Linked DNA regions of Homo sapiens: regions 1, 2 and 3 are each reported to be linked to region 4. The links are microRNA targets in miRTarBase. Many come from high-throughput screens and were not tested one by one. Region 4 holds a microRNA gene; each other region holds the end of a gene's coding sequence.
Evidence for each region. Region 4 holds the annotated microRNA hsa-miR-1202 (GUGCCAGCUGCAGUGGGGGAG, at 3,539-3,559, shown strand). A microRNA usually pairs through its seed, bases 2 to 8, with sites in the 3' UTR of a target mRNA and lowers its output. Matches are read on the target gene's strand: a 7mer-m8 pairs with bases 2 to 8, a 7mer-A1 pairs with bases 2 to 7 and ends in A, and an 8mer does both.

Region 1 (4,997 bases), not on the chromosome of region 4:
TAAATACTTTTTAAGTAAAAATTTACAAAATGTTGTCAAAAAGCATACCCACCAGATGGCTTAAATATGTAAGAAAAAAAGGTTTCGGCACATGAATGTGTTTTGTGCAAATAAATACAGAGATGACATTAAATTCCTAAACACGTAAGTCAGTATTCCAAATGTCTAGGTTCTCTGTGGTATTGTTTGCAGTAATCACTTATTGCACTTCTAAAGCAAATTCCAATGTAATATGTCAACACTTTTAATACTAATCAACATGGTAAACAACATCTGCCTGAAATGAAAAATAATAATAATAAAATACTTAAGTCAAGTCCTGGTTGTGCCACTTAAACGTTGTCAAACTCTAAACATATTCCTGAAGTCCTTTAGTCCTTAGTTTCCTTTTTGCTAAGTTGACTAGTTTGTACTCTAAAGTCATTAGCATCACAGTTTTTTTAAATTGCAAATTGATGCGGTCTAAGATATCTGTTAATGAATGTAACAAATGAAAAATGTTTGTAATTCCCATCATGTTATGCTACTATGAGAAGCGTCTACAACATATGGAAGACAGATTTAAAATTGAATTTTTCAAAAAACACATGTTCCAAGAAAGTTTTCACCATCTCTCTACAGCAAGAGGTGATTTCCAGAGGCTGATTTCGGCATCTGAGAGAAGACCGAAGAGAAGCCACTCGGTTACCATTACATTGCTCATTAATCTTTCTGAGAGTAGATGTATTTGATTAAAGAGATCACTAGCTTCTTGTGGAAGAATTCATTAATTCATTCAACTATAATTTATTGAATGCTCACATCCAAGATGCTGGAACAAATAATATTTATGTCTAATTTTGTGATGATTTTCTTTCTAGGACCCACTGATCTCAGCATGAAGAGACAATTGGCGACTAGCTCAGGATCCTCCAGCAGCTCAAACTCCAGACCCCAGCTGAGTCCAACTGAAATCAATGCCGTGAGACAGCTTGTTGCAGGATATCGAGAATCAGCTGCATTTTTATTGCGATCTGCAGATGAACTGGAAAATCTCATTTTACAACAGAACTGAGACAGACGACCACCATATTCACTGAGGTCTAAATTTGCAGTTTCCACTAATGACATTTTGATTTCCCAACAGAGATACTTCTGGTCTTACTGCACAGTCTTTTAAGAGAAATACTTCCATTATGCCACATTGTCCTTGATCCGTAAGTGATGTGTTAAGGTGCTTCAAAGGAACTCTGACCTCTGAAGTACTTGAGCTACTTTAGTATGTCCAGCCTATTGCTTTTTGTTTTAGTGTGTCACCATAAATATCAGGGGCATAAAAGGCTATCTATTCTTAATTCAAGGATAAAACAGAAGAAGCTTGTGGTATAAAACAATAGTTCAAGATCCAGCTGAAATATTAGTGGAATTTGCTACTGACTCATTGGACTGAAAGCTGAAGTACCTGGCAAAAAAAAAAAAAAGAAAAAAAAAAGCCAAATTTCTTGTTGCTACAGGATATAACAACAATGAAAAGGATCTCGTATTTTAAAAAAATATGTAATTTTTATAAAAAGAAAACTTGTTTTTCATTCAAACTTGTCATTTTTACTTTGGTAACTTTTTCATAGGTCCTAAAAGAAAACTGTTTTGAGAAACTACTGTAAGTACCTTTTCCACATCCCTTTGCCTTCTCCTCTTTCCAAATTCTTTCTACAAAAATAACACTTGATGCTGGAAAAACCCTTGCCTACGTTCTTTCAATCGTCACATCAGGAACTACTTCCAAGAGAAGCCTGCATTTCTGCTCTCATGCTGATCTCAAAAACCCCACTCAACACTGCAACTTTATCATAGCAGTTTTCATCCCAGAATTTTTTTTTTAATAATGACAAGACATGTTGTTGAAAAAAAATCACACCTTGGTTTCTTAGAGCTGCTCGTTCCTGATTGCCGCTGCTGTCTCCAGGCATCCCTCTAGCAGCACCTGGATGTAGATGACTGAATGTTAAGAGGTTGCAAGTGACAATCTGAAAATTTGCACTCTTGTGTGTAGTTTTCTTTTCATTTCTTTCAGAAATAGTTTCCAAAAAGACCATTACATCTCCTGATATGATTTGTATAATTTTCAGTTCTAGCTAAAAATAATGTAAGGAACTCTCAGCGGATGCAGCTGCAACTTACAATGAACTGTGCCCTCCTATCCCCCATACTTTACCCTTCTTTCTTATTTTATAGTGTGGGATACACATGAGTGATGTTTTCTTTGTGCACTGAGACAAGCCTATTTTTTAAATATTTAGGGAGAAGTACTTTAGTTCATGCTTCTTATACAACTTTTTTCTGTTGTTTAGCTTTGGTTGGATTACAAATTCTTTGTGCATTCCTGAATTTGCCTTATTTCATGTAAAATTTATGTCATTCAGTTTTTGACAATGAGTTTGAGGCATCAGTGATATTTCTTATCTACTTGTTACATATAGTTTTTCAAGTAATGACTGTGATTGTGACCGAGTAATGTGCACTTTTTCTTGTAACTGTGGACATTGCTATGCTTTTTTCTTCTAGTGTTTCTAGAATTACTGTTCCTTACAATTATGTAAACAAAAAACAAAAAAAAAACTTTTGTGATACTGTTGGTGAATATAATGTGAAAAATCTTATTGAAATATGAGTATTTTGGAAATACATAGCTGCACAAACATCTTTTAAGATGTGGATTTAGAGTTTGCTTATTTAAATGAAAATTCAAAAATTGAGGGCTGGTATAATTTTCTCTGTTTTGTTTGGTTTAATAAACAGATTTCTGTGTTAAAAGAATGATTGTCAAACCTTATAAACTTTCTGAAGGGTATAATGCTTAATTTTTAGCCATTTACTTTTAAAATCTAAAACGCCATTTTCTACCTACGTTTAGCACAAAATTGGCACTTCAAATTTATTTCTCAAGAATATCCTAAGATCCCCCAGGGTCTCAACATTCATTCTAATAAAGAATTTATTCCAAGAATGGGTAAGGAAATTAGGAAGCCAAGACTACTTCATTTGATTATTCAAATATGAATAGAGAATATTTTTGTATATTTTATTACTTTTTTTTTTCAGGAGTAACCTGTTATTTTTTAGTTCTTCCCGATTTAACATCTTGGATGAAACACATGCCTGTTTTAAGTGCATGTTTTATACTTTGCCTTTTGCTGTAATAGTATTTAAAGGCTTGGACAGGGTTTCTATTTTGCAAATTAACACTCAGGCTTGAATTTAGGGTATATGTCAAAAATTCTTGATGGTTAAGAAGCAAAGGGAGTAAAGAAGGTAAATTCCAACAAGATGCACTTGTTTCTATTTCATTTTCATCTTCAATTATAACTCCCACATCCACTCACCAAGGACAAAATACCCAAAATCGTCTGTGTTTGGCACATTTGTTCAAAAGAATGAGTATCTTGGGACTCCCATCATTCCTGGGAGAGTACAAAGGCCAAAATGAAGTCCATTTTTTTCTTTACTTGTACCTGAAAAACAGCCTGGTCCTTTTTTTTACCCTCTGTCACAGCAGAATAAAGAGATCACATTTCTTTATAAAGCATTTTGGAGAAACCGAGTGAAGGTTCATACTCTCATTCAAATGAGGCGATTAAAAAATAGGAAACTATCATTAACACAGAGATCAAACAGAAGCTTCTGTCACTTCTGCCAGGTAGCTTATCATACAACACCAGTTTCTTGTCACATATGTATTATTTTATCATGCTGATAAAAAGTGCCTTGAAATAACCATAGCACATGCAAGCACAAAGTCACTGAATCTTAAATTGTGTAGTACAAATAACAATACTCAGTGAAAAGGGCTTTAAGATATCTCAGCCACTATTTAATGATTATTTACCAAGGAAATGCATTTTGCTTCCTTTACTTCTTATAATAACCTGAGATGAGCATAGTCACTCTCCATTCTACAAAGTCGTCTCCAAAAGAGGAAATTAGTAATCAAGAGCACAAAGACAGTGAGAGTTGAAGCCGTCCTTTGAACCCAGGCACACCGGATGCCAGAGCCCACCCTGTTGCTCACTGACATCTGCTCCTTCACGAGTACTAAATAATTAAATTCTGCACTGTATCTTAGAACCAAGCTTTTACACTAAATTTTAGAAATGTTATATGTACAAATAAATCACAGTTATTTATTAAAAATGCACATAACTTATCCAATTATTTGACTAAACACAGTTTTATTCTGCTATACAAGATTTAATTTCCTTTACGATATGTTCTTTACAAATATTAAAACCCACCATAAAACCCACCACTAATGAAAATCAAGTACACAAAGCATGAAAGGGAAAGGCAGTGACTTTTTATCAATGGGGGCTTGTATTGAATTCTGTAAGGAAAAGTAAAAGGGATTATCCAGTTGAACTCATAAAGAAAAATTCATTCACTTGAGGTTTTTGCCCCAGACACTATACAGGTGCTATCCTGCTATTGTCATTAACCCTGACAGCATGAACACAATCATTCAAAGATTAAACTTTCTATGGCAAAAATATTTTCTAATTTCATGTGGCCCACGTTTTAAGATGTTTTGTAGAAAAAAAATTCAAAAATAATGTAGGTAGACATTATCATATCTTTTGAAGTGTGTTTGGGATGCTGATATTCAGTAAAGTAAATTGAACACAAGCTAATCTACAGAAAATTACTATATTAGTTATAGCTGTCTTCTTTCTTAAGAAAGTTTCTGAAAGGACATACAATGCTATTAATAAAGTAACCTCTCTCCAGTTTTAACATCAGTCATGTTCAACATTTAATTTTTTCTGATTACAAAAGAAACTTGGGAAGTGGAAGAAAAAAGATAAGAAATAAAAACAAAGAAAGAATTAAATGTCAGCATCTATAGAGAACCATGAGAAACATTTTATAGTGTATCTTTCAGATTTTATCTGAAGTGTATATACGTATTTTTTTCTGTTTTTTACCATATGTGGTCTTTTATCATAACCTAATTATATACCATA
Region 2 (4,827 bases), not on the chromosome of region 4:
GACTCAGCAGGAGCTTGACAGGGTGTTTCAGAAACTTGGAAACCTGAAGCAGCAGGCAGAACAGGAGCGGGACAAGCTGCAGAGGTAAGTTCGGGAGCATGGGCTGCAGATTCAAAATGGTCCAGCTGAGATTCCTTTCCTTCACACTTACCTCCTCTTTGTAGGTATCAGACCTTCCTCCAGCTTCTGTATACCCTGCAGGGTAAGCTGTTGTTCCCTGAGGCTGAGGCTGAGGCAGAGAATCTTCCAGATGATAAACCCCAGCAGCCGACTCGACCCCAGGAGCAGAGTACAGGAGACACCATGGGGAGAGACCCTGGTGTGTCCTTCAAGGTAAATGAGAGATGGAACAGGTGGGCATGGGCTGGCAGGTGGAGACAGAAGCTGGGAGATTGGCCTTACCCACTGTCTATACTGTATTTCTCCAAGGCTGTTGGTCTACAACCTGCTGGAGATGTAAATTTGCCATGACTTCCTGGAGGACAGCAGCATGGAGAAAGATCCTAGAAAAGGTCAGACCCAACTCAGGCCTTGGTGTCCCTGGACTGCAAGTGTGGAAGGAGGGAAAGCCTGGTTTACCTCTCTCTGCATCTGAGCTCTGCTACCCATGGAGCAGATGGATGGTGGGAACAGGAAAGAGCTTATGTTACACCTCATTCCCATGCTTAGCCCACCCAGAGCTAACCCCTGTCTTCTTCCCCAGGCCTCTGACTTCCCTCACCTCCCAACCATCATTACAGGAAAGACTGTGAACTCCTGAGTTCAGCTTGATTTCTGACTACATCCCAGCAAGCTCTGGCATCTGTGGATTAAAATCCCTGGATCTCTCTCAGTTGTGTATTTGTTCATCTTCATATGCTGGCAGGAACAACTATTAATACAGATACTCAGAAGCCAATAACATGACAGGAGCTGGGACTGGTTTGAACACAGGGTGTGCAGATGGGGAGGGGGTACTGGCCTTGGGCCTCCTATGATGCAGACATGGTGAATTTAATTCAAGGAGGAGGAGAATGTTTTAGGCAGGTGGTTATATGTGGGAAGATAATTTTATTCATGGATCCAAATGTTTGTTGAGTCCTTTCTTTGTGCTAAGGTTCTTGCGGTGAACCAGAATTATAACAGTGAGCTCATCTGACTGTTTTAGGATGTACAGCCTAGTGTTAACATTCTTGGTATCTTTTTGTGCCTTATCTAAAACATTTCTCGATCACTGGTTTCAGATGTTCATTTATTATATTCTTTTCAAAGATTCAGAGATTGGCTTTTGTCATCCACTATTGTATGTTTTGTTTCATTGACCTCTAGTGATACCTTGATCTTTCCCACTTTCTGTTTTCGGATTGGAGAAGATGTACCTTTTTTGTCAACTCTTACTTTTATCAGATGATCAACTCACGTATTTGGATCTTTATTTGTTTTCTCAAATAAATATTTAAGGTTATACATTTCTTCTGACTTCCTTTATTTTCACAATCATTCAATTCATAGCATTTCCTATATTCTGTTATAATTATTTCATTGATTCATAAATTTCTTTGAAAAATAATTTGGTCTTCTATTGATTGTGAGAAGATAATCTAAGTTTAATTTGGTCAGAGAATATCATCTGTTTAATAAACTTTGAAATTTGGTGAGTGAATTATCTTTTTTACTGATAAAGAGTGATGTCATCTTTTTTAATGTTTCACATAGGTTTGGAAAGAATGCATTTTAGATTGTGTGTAGTATTTTCTATTAGATTATGTTTGCAATTTTTGTTTCAATTTATATCTTATATACTTAATTTTTTGTTGTCTGTCACCTGAGAGGTGTGTTCAAATCTCCAACTATGATAGTGGATTTGTGCATTTGTCTTTATAGTTCCATTTTCTTACATACTTTGCAGTTACTTTATTAAGGTATATGTAAATTTACATTTATATTTTTCTTCTGAACTGAACTCTTTGTGTGGTAGCCTGCTTCATCTATAGGCTAATGTGTTTAACCTTGAAAACTACTAGTTTTAATATTAATATAACTGTCAATTCTTTTGGTTACCCTTTGCTTGACATCCTTTCTCTTGAATTTCCATTCTTTTTTAGTTTCAACCTTTCTTTATATTTACCACTTGTATACAGCATTTAAAGGGTTATTTATAAAAAAAAAAAAAACTCTTGTCACATTTGTCTTTATGATTTTCTAGTTGTGTCAATTTTTTATTTGCTTTCTCTTGGCTTTTTATTTATCCCTTTCATGCCTTTTATTTTTTATTGTTTCTTCATGCTTTTTGTTGTTTGTTTGTTTAGAAGGTCTAATTTAGACCGGCTAGTTTAGCTTTCATAGTTAGCAATGTCTCAAGTTATTTAAAGAATTAAAGACTCTTCATCCTTTTCTTAATAAATGAAGCCTAAACAGCTGTAACCATTGATAGATCATCCCACTCTAAACTATTAAGGTATTTTTGTCCAGTTTATTACTTCTAGCCTGTTTGTGTTCTCATAAATTAATTTTTTAAATTATTTTATACAGTCAATGCTTTATTACTAATTTATTTACTATTTTTGCCCACATTATTTTTACATTTCAGAGCTTTCATGTGGAATACTTTTTCCATCTGAAATAAATGTCTCAGAATTTCCCTTAGAGTTTGCAGACTGTATAATGTTTTAAATTTTACTATGAAAATATTTTTATTTCATCCTTATTCTTGAGAAATGTTTTTATTATGTAGAGAATGCTTGGTAGGCAGTTTGACTTAACACATTGAAGATTAACTCAACTGATTCTCTGGTCATCTGGTTTTGATCCTTGATGATGAGAAGTCAACTGTCAGTTTAAAAGCCCTTCCTATGCATTTTTTTACCCAGTTAGTGCTTTTAACACCTGTATTTAGTGCTCTATAGTTTTACTATATTGTGAATAGTTTGGGACTCTGGTTTACTTATTTATTCATTCATTCTGCTTGCAAATAGTTGAGCTTTCTAAATTGCCACTCTTTCAACAATTCTGGAATATTTTCAGTTTATCTGTTTAAAAAACACCTCTTTTGTATTAGCTTATTCTAAAATGCCAATTAGACATCAATCAAATTTTCTAACTTTTTTCTTCATGTCATGCAAACTTTCTTTTGTAGTTACCATTGCTCTTTCTGAGATTGCATTCTAGATGCTTTTTCTATTTTAACTTTATATAGCCAAGCTATTGTTTTTTCATCAGTTTCTTAATTTTTGATCTTTGATTTTCATTTCAATAAGTTGTATTAGATCTCAATTTACTACTGCTTTTGAATATTTTCTTCTGGCTTACATTTTGAGCTTTTTAAATTTTTTTTTTTAATTCTTGATGTATTTGACTACATAGTAGGTATACATACGAGCTTATTTTTTATTATCTTAATATATGGACACTTCATTATCTTTTTTGGAAAGGTTCATAATATATAACTTTATTGGCCTATCTCTCATACTCCCTGTTTAATATAGTTCATGTAGTTTTACTTTGAGCTGCCTATTTTTCCTAAATTTTACCGTTACGGCCTGATACAAAATTGAGAGAATTTGTGTTAACTTCTGTCAATAGCTTGTGGGCATTACCTGTATAACTCTTAGAAATGTTAAAATGAGTGTTTTTAATGTTTTTTATATTTGTGTGCTATCCCATTTTTCATTCCTGTTGTTTATTTTCTTTCTTATTAGTATTTCCCAAAGGCCTTTTTTCTACTTTATATGTCTTTCAAAAACACAGGTATTGGCATTATTTTCTTTAATGTTGCTTTTAATACATTCTTTTAATTATTTTTTGTCTTTATTCCCTTCTGCTCTAATTTTTAATATTTGTAGGATTTTTAAAAATTAATATTTGATAATACATATGTTCTTTTTTATAGTCCAACAAACGCATTTACATATTTACATTTTTATTTGACCACCACTCTGAGAATAATTCATATATTTTAATACATAGGCTATTGATTATTTCTAAATAGATTATAATTTTAGTATTGATTTTATTTTAAATCAAGGAGGTTTCCTTTGTTGCCCTTGCCTCTCAAATGTATTTGTAATAGTGTTTAGTTCCTCAATGGATTTAAGATAATTTTGTTATTTTTAATGCACCAAATTTTGTAATCTTACTGTTACTTCTTTTATTCCATTTGCTTCAAATGGTATCACACCTCTGAATATTGTTCCTTAAAATTTATTAGTTACATATAGGCTTATGTATATGTGTAGTCATTATATATGTTCTTATAGGGAAGAGATTTTATCATTTTTGTTCATCACTAAACCCACAAGTTCAAGAAAAATACTGATAGAGGGTAGATCCACAAACATTGGTGGAAATGTAAATGGTTGCCAAAAATGAAAAAGGAACACAATGCATACAGGAGGTATTCCAAATTTTTAAGTGTGTCTTGGAAGTTTGTATGAGATTTCACAGAGGTAACACCCCAAAAAAATTTTACTTCTATATTATGACTTCTTTTGCATCTACTTTTTCCAAAATGTTATTTTTTTCTAACAGAGTTCTAAACATTGAAAATCATTTAACACATTGCATTCAGTATTTCTGATCATTTTTATCTAACCAGTTGCTAGGATCAGTTTCTAAAAAACAGCATGAGAGAGAAAACTTGTTCAAAGTACCCTCCTAAAATTATTAAGGTCTTCTAAATTTATGTGACTTATTCTATCAGGTAAATATTCTTATTATCCCAGATAGTGTTGGCAAAGCTAATACTGCACATTCTGTCTGTACAGTTTCGAAATTTATAAAACTAAGGTTTCATTTCTAATACTCTCCCCTGCCATAACAAGATGGGCATTTTCCGCTGCTCTTTAACTC
Region 3 (4,944 bases), not on the chromosome of region 4:
TGGATGTGAGATGTGCAGTGGTGACGCCCGCCGGCAGGGCCTGGGCCTGGGTGGGGGTGTGGGGTCCCTCTGGGGGTCCAGGGCAGGGTCTGCTCACTGGGCCCACCTGCACAGCCCTCACACTGCCCTCCCTCCCGCACCCTTCTGCCAGGTGATCAAGGCTGGGGTGGAGACCACCTGCAAGTGCCACGGCGTGTCAGGCTCATGCACGGTGCGGACCTGCTGGCGGCAGTTGGCGCCTTTCCATGAGGTGGGCAAGCATCTGAAGCACAAGTATGAGACGGCACTCAAGGTGGGCAGCACCACCAATGAAGCTGCCGGCGAGGCAGGTGCCATCTCCCCACCACGGGGCCGTGCCTCGGGGGCAGGTGGCAGCGACCCGCTGCCCCGCACTCCAGAGCTGGTGCACCTGGATGACTCGCCTAGCTTCTGCCTGGCTGGCCGCTTCTCCCCGGGCACCGCTGGCCGTAGGTGCCACCGTGAGAAGAACTGCGAGAGCATCTGCTGTGGCCGCGGCCATAACACACAGAGCCGGGTGGTGACAAGGCCCTGCCAGTGCCAGGTGCGTTGGTGCTGCTATGTGGAGTGCAGGCAGTGCACGCAGCGTGAGGAGGTCTACACCTGCAAGGGCTGAGTTCCCAGGCCCTGCCAGCCCTGCTGCACAGGGTGCAGGCATTGCACACGGTGTGAAGGGTCTACACCTGCACAGGCTGAGTTCCTGGGCTCGACCAGCCCAGCTGCGTGGGGTACAGGCATTGCACACAGTGTGAATGGGTCTACACCTGCATGGGCTGAGTCCCTGGGCTCAGACCTAGCAGCGTGGGGTGAGTCCCTGGGCTCAGTCCTAGCTGCATGGGGTGCAGGCATTGCACAGAGCATGAATGGGCCTACACCTGCCAAGGCTGAATCCCTGGGCCCAGTCAGCCCTGCTGCACATGGCACAGGCATTGCACACGGTGTGAGGAGTGTACACCTGCAAGGGCTGAGGCCCTGGGCCCAGTCAGCCCTGCTGCTCAGAGTGCAGGCATTGCACATGGTGTGAGAAGGTCTACACCTGCAAGGGACGAGTCCCCGGGCCTGGCCAACCCTGCTGTGCAGGGTGAGGGCCATGCATGCAGTATGAGGGGTCTACACCTGCAAGGACTGAGAGGCTTTTCTAGCACGTCGGGGCGTACAGCTGGAGCAGGGTGCCGGGGGTCCTCTGGGTTGGCTGTCCAAGCCCTGTATCTCCCCCTCTCCAGGACCCAGAGGCGGGGGTTGGCTCTGGTCTGGCGTATGCAACCTCTCTGCTTGTGCCCTGGGCCTCAGCTTCCTCCCTCTGACCCGAGAGCATTGCACCAATGCTTTCTGAGCTTTCTCCCATCCCTAACACACCAGTCCCTGGGAAGCGGCTCCCCATGCCAGTCCATTGGCTTTCCCTCCCCACCTCCTCTGAGGCATGGGTGGCAGGTGCACCTTGGTGACCATGCGGCCTCCGTGTGGGCCACCCGTTGGGGACTGGCCTGGCCCAGGCTGCCCCAACACCAGCACTGTCTTCAGAGACTCAAACCACTAGAAGAGGACGCAGCCTGTTCTGCACTCCCAGGGCCCGGCCGTGCGGGTGCCCAGGCTCGGGGGGACACTGCCGACCTCTGACGTTGAGCACTTCTCTTTGGAGTAAATATCAGTGACTTTTAAATTATTATGATTATTTAACTAATATAATAATTATTATTTTCTCCATCCCTGCCACCTCCCCGGCTGCAGCTCCCCGCTCTCGGCCAAGCCCCAGTCTGGGAGGGCCCCGCCTTCCGTCCCTGACATATTCCCTCCTAACCCTGCCTCTGATCTGCTTAGTTGTTTGAAACCACTAAATCGAGATAGATGTGTGTAGTTAAGGAAATACAGTGAGCTGCGTCTGGCCACAGCCCTTGGGGCTTCTGGAAGCCAGCTCCCCCAGCCCCATGCCAGCCAGCCACTGCCACGTGGTGGGCCAGCCGGCGGCCCCTGCCCTGCACCCTGTGGGCAGACGCCCGGCCTCCAGGCAGCTCAGTGCAGATTCTCGAGCTGGGGGTGGTGGAGAGGGGCGGGCATGGTGAGGGGGCAGGGCAGCCCTTTGATTGGTTCATGTCATGTCATGAGGAAGCTGCTTGCTTTGTGTCACTGGGGGACAGATTGGGACAGATGCCGGTGGAGGCAGTCTTGGGCTCGCATCTGGCCATGGAACGCCATGCTTTATGGCCCTGCTGTTGTGTGTGCTGGGGACAGGGTGACCTGCACTGACCTGGCTTGGTTTGAGGGTGTAGTGTGTGTGTGTGTTGTGAGAGTGTGTGTGCTGGCGTGGTCAGTGTGCATACGTGTGCGTATGTTGTGAGTGTTGTGAGTGCGTGTGTGCTGGCGTGGTCAATGTGTGTAAGCGTGTGTTGTATAAATGCATGCTGGCATGGTCTGTGTGTGTGTGTGTGTGTGTGTGTGTGTGTGTGTGTATACTGGCATGGTCAGCTTGGCTGTGCTGTGCTGTCAGTGGCATGGCGGTGCCTTAGGTTCCCAGAGCCTCTCGCCCTGGGCTCCGTCTTGTGGGTGTCCTGATGGCTGTGGGCTGGGTTCTGGGCGGGTTGCTGGTATGGATACAGGAACTACTGAGTGAATAGGTGTCTCAGAGCCCTAAGGGTCTCCAGAAAGCCGGGGTGTCTGTGTTTTTAAAAGAAAACCTATTTATGTTGCTGTGGGTCTCTGCCGTCCCTGTGTTATAGTACATAAGAACCTTTATTCTCCTGTGGTTCAGAGAGCACCCCGACATGTGCCTGCAGCTGCATCCCCGTACCACAGTGTGGGTGCAAGACGCTGGGTTTGTCCTTTGTCTGGTGAAGCCTGGCTAGAAGGGGTGGGGGTGGTAGCCCCTGCCCTCTGCAGTGTCCGCATCCACTGGTCCCTGAGCAGCATAGCTGGCCACACCCTCATGACATGACAAGACTGTCACTCAGTCACTATTGGGTCTATGAAGGGCGTCAAGTCAGAGGAAGGTTTTTATTTTTAATCAAATACCACATTTAGCTCTATGTCATAAATATTCAGAAAACTATTTTTTTAAACAAGGCAGACCAAAAATGTCTGCTAGCTAGTTGGTTTCTATACAAATACATATTCGAATGTCTTGCTGGATGAAGAGGCCGCTCAGCCGGAGCCTCCTGTTTCATGCGCTTCTCTTCTGAGGGGCAGTAGAGGAGAAAGGGCTGTTGGGAGGGGTTCAGCCCGCTCCTTGGCCAGGGGATCCCAGCCACCTTCTCTGCACCAGGCCCTGCCTTGAGGGACCTGGACCCCCAGGTGGCTTCTGGCCAGGTGTGGGTGGGTGGGAGGGGCCCTGTCTGTGCTCCGAGTCTCCGTGCGTGCAATGATTTCTCTACCTCATCTGTGTGGCCCGTCCCAGAGGGACTGTGGAGAATGTATTTATTTAACAGCTTTGTGTCACAGAACCAGAAACAAATGGAAACATTAAATAAATGTATTTTAAATTATAGCCTCATCTCAGTCTGCTGCCTTCACAGGGGCTTCTGTAGGCCTGGGACGAGGAGGAGGGCCTGAGGAGGAGGCCTAGGAGTTGGCCTCTGCGAAGAGGAGGACAAGAAAGAGGGTTGGAGAGGAGGTGGGCTCGGGGAGGTATGCCTGGGAAGGAGGAGAAATTGGGAGGAGGGACCAGGGAGGAGGAGGAAGGGGGAGGTTTTGGGGAGAAGGGGTATCCACGAAGGAGGACCCTGGGGAGGAGGAGGAACCTGGACAGGAGGAGGGCCCTGGGGAGAAGGAGCACCCTCAGGAGGAGGAGGACCCTGGAGAGGAGGAGGACCCTGGGGAGGAGGGCCTGGGGAAAGAGGAGGACCTGGGGAGGAGAAGGGCCCTTGGGAAGAGGACTTGGGGAGGAGGAGGACCCTGTGGAAGAGGAGGGCCCTCGGGAGGAGGAGGGCCCTGGGGAAGAGGAGGGCCCTGGAGAGGAGGAGGGCCCTGGGAAGAAGGAGGACTTGATGAGGACAGCCCTGAAGAAGAGGAGGACCTGGGGAGGAGGAGGGCCCTGGGAAGAAGGAGGACCTGAGGAGGACAGCCCTGAGGAAGAGGAGGACCGTTGGGAGGAGGAGGACTTAAGAAGGAACCCTGGGGGAGAAGCCCCATCTCCCAGCCACATTTGGCACCTTTGTTGGGCAGGCATCTCCAGGCTGCGTGTATGGCCCCAGCTGACCCTAGTCTCTGTGCTTCCCATGTCCAGGCTGGAGAGCCTGGGGTGCCACAGGAAGCCCTGTCCAGCCCCGTCTTCTCAGACACCTAGCTCCATCCCACTCCTGCCCACAGCCTCTTGCTGAAGGAGGCCCCTCACTCTCTTGCTGGGTCACAAGCAGGGCCTCATCATCCCCCTGCCCTGCATGTGGGGTCTTCTGGGCATAGCCCCTCACCTCCCTGACTCGAAGCCAGTTCCCAGCCCACAGTCCTCACCTTCCTCTCACCTCCATCACCCTTCTGAGCCCACATTGTGGGTCCCCCACCACTGCAACATGCCCTGCAGGAAACCCCTCACTCGCCCTTCCAGACCCTGCCTGCCCCTCTCCTGCCACCTCGCGTCTGGTCTGTGCCCTCCCAGACATCCAGGTCCACGCCCACCACAGCACCGGGGAGGGAGGGGCTGCCCACTGAGGAATGTGGGATTATCTCCCTGATGGGAACAGTCCAGGCTTCCTTTCCAGACCCATGGCCACAGCTCCTACTAAGAGGCCGGTGGGGGCTTCCTGGTGCCGGCCCCTGGCCCTCAGCCTCTGGCCACTGCCGGGTGAAGCCACACTGGATAGCTCTGCCTGGAGGGACAGGCCTGTGCAGGGCAGGGTGGTCAGGGGCTTGGGCCTCTGTGCCCAGGCGGGAGGGGGATGTGAGCTGTCCAGCCAGGGAGCAGGTGGCCTGAATGAGACCATTCTTCTGAGTGACAGC
Region 4 (4,997 bases):
ATCTCGAACTCCTGACCTCAAGCGATCTGTCCACTTCAGCCTCTCAAGGTGCTGGGATTACAGGAATGAGCCACCACTCCCAGCTTGCAGCACACATTTCTAAAGTAAGTTTTTCCACACTGAGTTGCATGTACAAGGTAGTAAATAATGTACCAGACAATGCCTCAACACAATTCCTAAATAAAATATAAGAATGAAATTGATGAGGTTGTGCTTTAAAATACCCTCCAAGAAAAGGCAAGGCCATTATCTGAAAAGTTTGTAAAAACAAGTCCATCAGTGGCAAAGATATATTTCAATTGGGTAGCCTTCTGATGATCTACTTTGATTAAAAATGAAATCCAGAATACCTAAATAAATAGCAACAGAACACATCCTTTTGTTAATCCTCTTCAAACATCACATTTGCTAGGTTCTAATGGGTCCCCGTGGTGTGTTTGGAGTAAGATTCTACTCTAGGAAGTGGCAGTTGCTCCCTCTTTCACAGTTTAATAAAAGCAGTTACTCTCAGCACTATTCATGTGGTTTATCCTGGTTCCACCACTAATACACCATGTGACTTTGAGCAAGTGACTCAACCTCTCTGTCATTTAGTTTCCTCATCTGCAAAATATTGATAATAACAACACTTAGCTCATTGGATTGTTAGGAGGATAAAATGCAATGAAACATGTAAAATGCCTCTGATGGTGCCTGGTAAATAGAAAGTGCTACTATATATGTTTTTTCTTTCTTTTTTTTTTTTTTTTTTTCTGAGATGGAGTCTTGCTCTGTTGCCCATGCTGGAGTACAGTGGCACAATCTCGGCTCACTGCCACCTCTGCCTCCCGGGTTCAAGCAGTTCTCCTGCCTCAGCCTTCCAAGTAGTTGGGATTACAGGCACGCACCACCACGCCCAGTTGATTTTTTTGTATTTTTAGTACAGATGGGGTTTCCCCATGTTGGTCAGGTTGGTCTCGAACTCCTGACCTCATGATCCGTCCGCTTTGGCCTCCCAACATGCTGGAATTACAGGCATAAGCCACCGTGCCCAGCCAAGGTACTACTATATTACATGAGACTGCCTTAGACATGCATGCTGTATGTGCTTTTCTATTAGTAGCAGCACCAGAAAAACCATCCTTCCCTTTCTGAGAGCAGTATGGATCACACATTCACAGATTGTTTAAGCTATCACTAGATTGTGATCTTGTTTACTTTGGTGATGCACTTCTTCTTGTATTCATAGACATAGAAACTGGATTTTAAAATTTGTATGTGTCCAGCTTTCTTTGTGGCCAATCTTTATCATTCAGTTTTAAACAAAATTTGTCCTCTTGTAAGATCCGATCACACGATTCATTTCCTGGAAACATGAAAAAAGACTCCACATATTAGGCTGGAAGCTTGGATTCTAGTCTAGCTTAGTGATACCATGTCAACCTTCTCATCTGTAATGTTTCAGCATTGAGATCATGGCTAAATGTTCATTTTGGTTTTAAATTTCTGATTCTAAAAATTCAAGTTCAGTTTAAGGTTAAATCTTCTTTTAGACCAAGGGAAACAAATGAACAAAAAACTGTATGTAAAATATCTCTCCATTCTGATATATAGTTCTTATTTCCCTAAATTTCTGAATTCTGATGAGAATTGATGCTTTCCCATTTAATATTGTTTCCTTTGAAGTTCCTGAAATTTTCAGGCTAATAAATCCCCAGGTGGCTCTATTTCAAGTGTTACCCTTTGCAGCAAAGAGCATCTCTCTGAGCTTTAGACCTAATTTTGCTGTGAGTATTCTCACCTCGTTTAAGGCAGGAGCAAAACTTCCCATGGATTGCCCTGTCCCTCCTGTGCCATCCTATCTCTGATCAGAATGGCGAGCGTTGACCTGCAAGAGAAGCTCACTGAGTATTTCTGCTCCTTTCTCCACACCCCTCATCACTCCTTCCAAAGGAGAAAACAAGAGCAAGACACCCTACCCGCAATGGGAAAGAGTTATGATCTGAATTATTCAAACCTTAGCACTGTGTATTGATATAATTTTCAAACAGATGAAGGTGGCAGCACTGGAGTGTGGATTTTTCCTTTCTGGTCTCTGTTGCTTCCACAGAGTACAGAATGGTAATGAGGGCCTGAGCCATTTCCCCTTGGAAAAATCCCAAACATCTCTCTTTATCTTTAGCTCTCTCTTTCTTCCACTCTGTACTCTCTCCTGCCTCAAGGGCAGCCCTAGATCAGGTTTGATAAAGTCTGGAGTAGGAGACACAGCACTGGGGCAGGCACCTTCCTCCTGCCATCCCCTCCCTCTTGCGTTTCTTCATGTTCTATTTCTTCTCATCTTGGGAAGTCCACTTTAATTCAACCTTTCCACCGACCTGAGTGTTGACATTAGAGACCCAGGTTTGGGGTTAGGAAAGAGCCACTTGGCTCAGAGAGGAACAATGCTCCAAGAACAGCTGACTTCCTGAAGACCTATGTTGGAGAGGGAGGCTAGCGCCCAAGCAATAAAGATGTGAGACAATGACCGGCTTGGTCAGACTTTCTCTTGCAACTCTTTTGCCCTTGGAAGCTCACCCCAAGAGGTATCTATAGCAAGGCAGGACACAGTTATTTCTGAGTTCCTTTGCCAAATAACACCACACAATAATCACTTTAATTGCAATTCAATTAACATAGCTACAATTTGGTATAATTTTAACTGATTCTATTATTTTCAATAGCAGCTAGTAGGTGATGGCTGCTTCCTTTCTGTACTATTCCCTTTTGATGAAGAGTGGGAGTGGAAGGGCTTCACTTTCAAAATCTCTGCTCCTTTCCCATTCACTATGCAGATATAGCAGAGTCAATTAGGAAACAATGGTTATATTTTTAAAGCCATGTGTTTTAGTAACTAAATGTTGCTGCTTTAGGACTTTATGCAGCTTTCCAGTTCTGTTCTTTTTAAACTTTTGAATATTTTTTCTTAACTATTTCCCAACAAAATCAATTCCTAAACTTTTTCATAATTATTATTCCCTATAAAATTTACTCTTTCACTGGCTAAATTAAAGTCTTGAGTGTGGAGACCATATCGTGTAATTATAATCCTTACCCCCTATTTTACAAAGCACATAATAACAATCACAGGAAAAATACAAATAGCCAATAAATGTAAAGAACCTATTTATTCTTTTGAGTCATCATAGAAATGCACATTGGAACTGTCTATAAAATTAGTAGTGATACTAATATATTCTAATATTTGAACGATGTTCTAAGAGTGACCAGAGAATGTTGCTGAATGACTAGAAAAACTTTTTGGAAAGCAATTCGTCAACATGTGTTAACAACCTTTAAAATGTATATTGTTAAAGAATATTACAAGACATGGAACAATTGTTGGCATATAATGCTAATTTTAGTATTATTCAATAAATATTTATTAAGGGCCCTCCATGTGCCAGGCACTGCTCTAAGTGAACAAAATAAAGTTCATGTCTTCAAGGAACTTCTATGGAAAACAAAGTCAGCTGGTGGTAGTGATGGCAGCAGCAGCCCATCTGGAGCACCTGCTGCAGAGGTGCCAGCTGCAGTGGGGGAGGCACTGCCAGGGCTGCCCACTCTGCTTAGCCAGCAGGTGCCAAGAACAGGTGGGAGCCCCACCCCCTACTGAGTTGGCAGGATGGGAGCCCCTTGCTCCCTGGCACACAGCTACAGCTGCCCAGCCAGGGTTCTGGACCTGGACATTCCTGCACTCTCAGGGGCCCAGGAACCCCCCTGCCCCTGCAGGCTTGAACATGCCTGCTCCAGCTCCCTGTCCTCTCCCTGTTCCCAGTCCCTGCTTGGGGCAGAGCAAAGTTGTGGCTGAGCCTGGCGGCTGTCGCAACCTGGCCAGGTGTGCGTGTCCTCAGCATGGCACTGACACCAACACCCTGCCACCTTGGCCCCCTCTAGGCTTTGGGCATCACTGAGCATGGGTGGGGGGCAAGGAGGCTGAGAGCAGCTCAGTGCATGCCTGCCGGTGCCTCTCCTTATGGACAGCCTGGGTGCTGTGAATGGCATGTTAAAGGCAGACAGATTCCTAGGCGGGAAGGGGTGGGTCTCTGGTGAAACCCCACTTTCAGGTCAGGAACAGCGTGAAGCCTGGGGGCCAGGCTGCCAGTTCTGGGCAAAGGCTACAGCCCAGAGTGAGAACTTCATTGATGACTGTTCAGCCAATCAGATGGTGCATTTTCCAGGCCCACTGTGGCTGCCTGTGGGCCAGTCAGCACACACTTCCTCCATTCTGAGCACATAAAAACCCCAGACTCAGCCAGACTCACACACTCGTCAGGATGACCTGCCTGCAGCAAGGAACTACCCACTTTGGGTCTCCTGAGAGCTGTTCTGTCACTCAATGAAGCTCCTCTCCACTTTGCTCACCCTCCAGTTGTCCACCTACCTCATTCTTCCTGGATGCAAGACAAGAACTCAGGACCCACTGAATGGCAGGACTGAAAGAGCTATAACACAAACAGGGGTGAAACAAGCCACTTGCTTGCTGCATTGTGGGTGATGAGAAGGAGAGAAGAGCTGTGGCCCTTCAAGGATCTCAGACCTAGGGGCTCCCCAAGCCAGGGCTGTGACATCCTTTTTGTGGCTCTGGAGTTCCTGACATCTCTAAGCTTCCAGGCACCACTATGTTCCCCTCATCCAGATGCAGGTAGAAGCCACTTATGGTACATCTGATCCAGCTGCAGCCTTGCACAGAGCTGGCATCTGAGCTGGCACCTGTGCACATGCCTGGAGCTGCCCACCCCTCCATAATAGCCGATGTGCCTGGCTGTGCACTGTGGCTGGACCCCACACTTGTCTGCTCACACAACTCTTGCTGCTCCATGCCTGGCTTGCCCTTGGTAGGCGTGGGATCTGGGCTGGTAGCATGAGCTCAGCACAGCCTGCCAGGCTGAGTGGGCAGAATGAGCCCCGTGGGCCCAAGCAAAACTCAGGCAAAGACGCCACCAGCCACAGAGATTTCTGGCTGGAAAAGTGACACCCTA

Region 1: miRTarBase lists NOL4 as a target of hsa-miR-1202. Seed matches in the 3' UTR shown: 7mer-A1 at 1,442-1,448.
Region 2: miRTarBase lists ZWINT as a target of hsa-miR-1202. Seed matches in the 3' UTR shown: 7mer-m8 at 858-864.
Region 3: the mRNA of WNT9A is a reported target of hsa-miR-1202. Seed matches in the 3' UTR shown: 7mer-m8 at 2,417-2,423.

The regions. Positions count from the first base shown.
Region 1 is chr18:33,848,899-33,853,895 of GRCh38, reverse strand. NOL4 (nucleolar protein 4) reads left to right here. Exons shown (of 11, transcript NM_003787.5): 11 at 861-2,796. The coding sequence ends at 1,054. Among named protein-coding and RNA genes, the nearest start is that of ASXL3, 270 kb to the right of the region's middle.
Region 2 is chr10:56,354,062-56,358,888 of GRCh38, reverse strand. ZWINT (ZW10 interacting kinetochore protein) reads left to right here. Exons shown (of 9, transcript NM_007057.4): 6 at 1-84; 7 at 165-333; 8 at 430-512; 9 at 704-1,662. The coding sequence ends at 471. Among named protein-coding and RNA genes, the nearest start is that of ZWINT, 4.8 kb to the left of the region's middle.
Region 3 is chr1:227,917,208-227,922,151 of GRCh38, reverse strand. WNT9A (Wnt family member 9A) reads left to right here. Exons shown (of 4, transcript NM_003395.4): 4 at 152-3,496. The coding sequence ends at 634. Among named protein-coding and RNA genes, the nearest start is that of MIR5008, 22 kb to the left of the region's middle. RefSeq lists enhancers at 971-1,833, 1,834-2,697.
Region 4 is chr6:155,943,271-155,948,267 of GRCh38, forward strand. MIR1202 (microRNA 1202) reads left to right here and starts at 3,527; the gene lies at 3,527-3,609. The region is part of intron 4 of LOC101928923 (a long non-coding RNA gene); the gene reads right to left.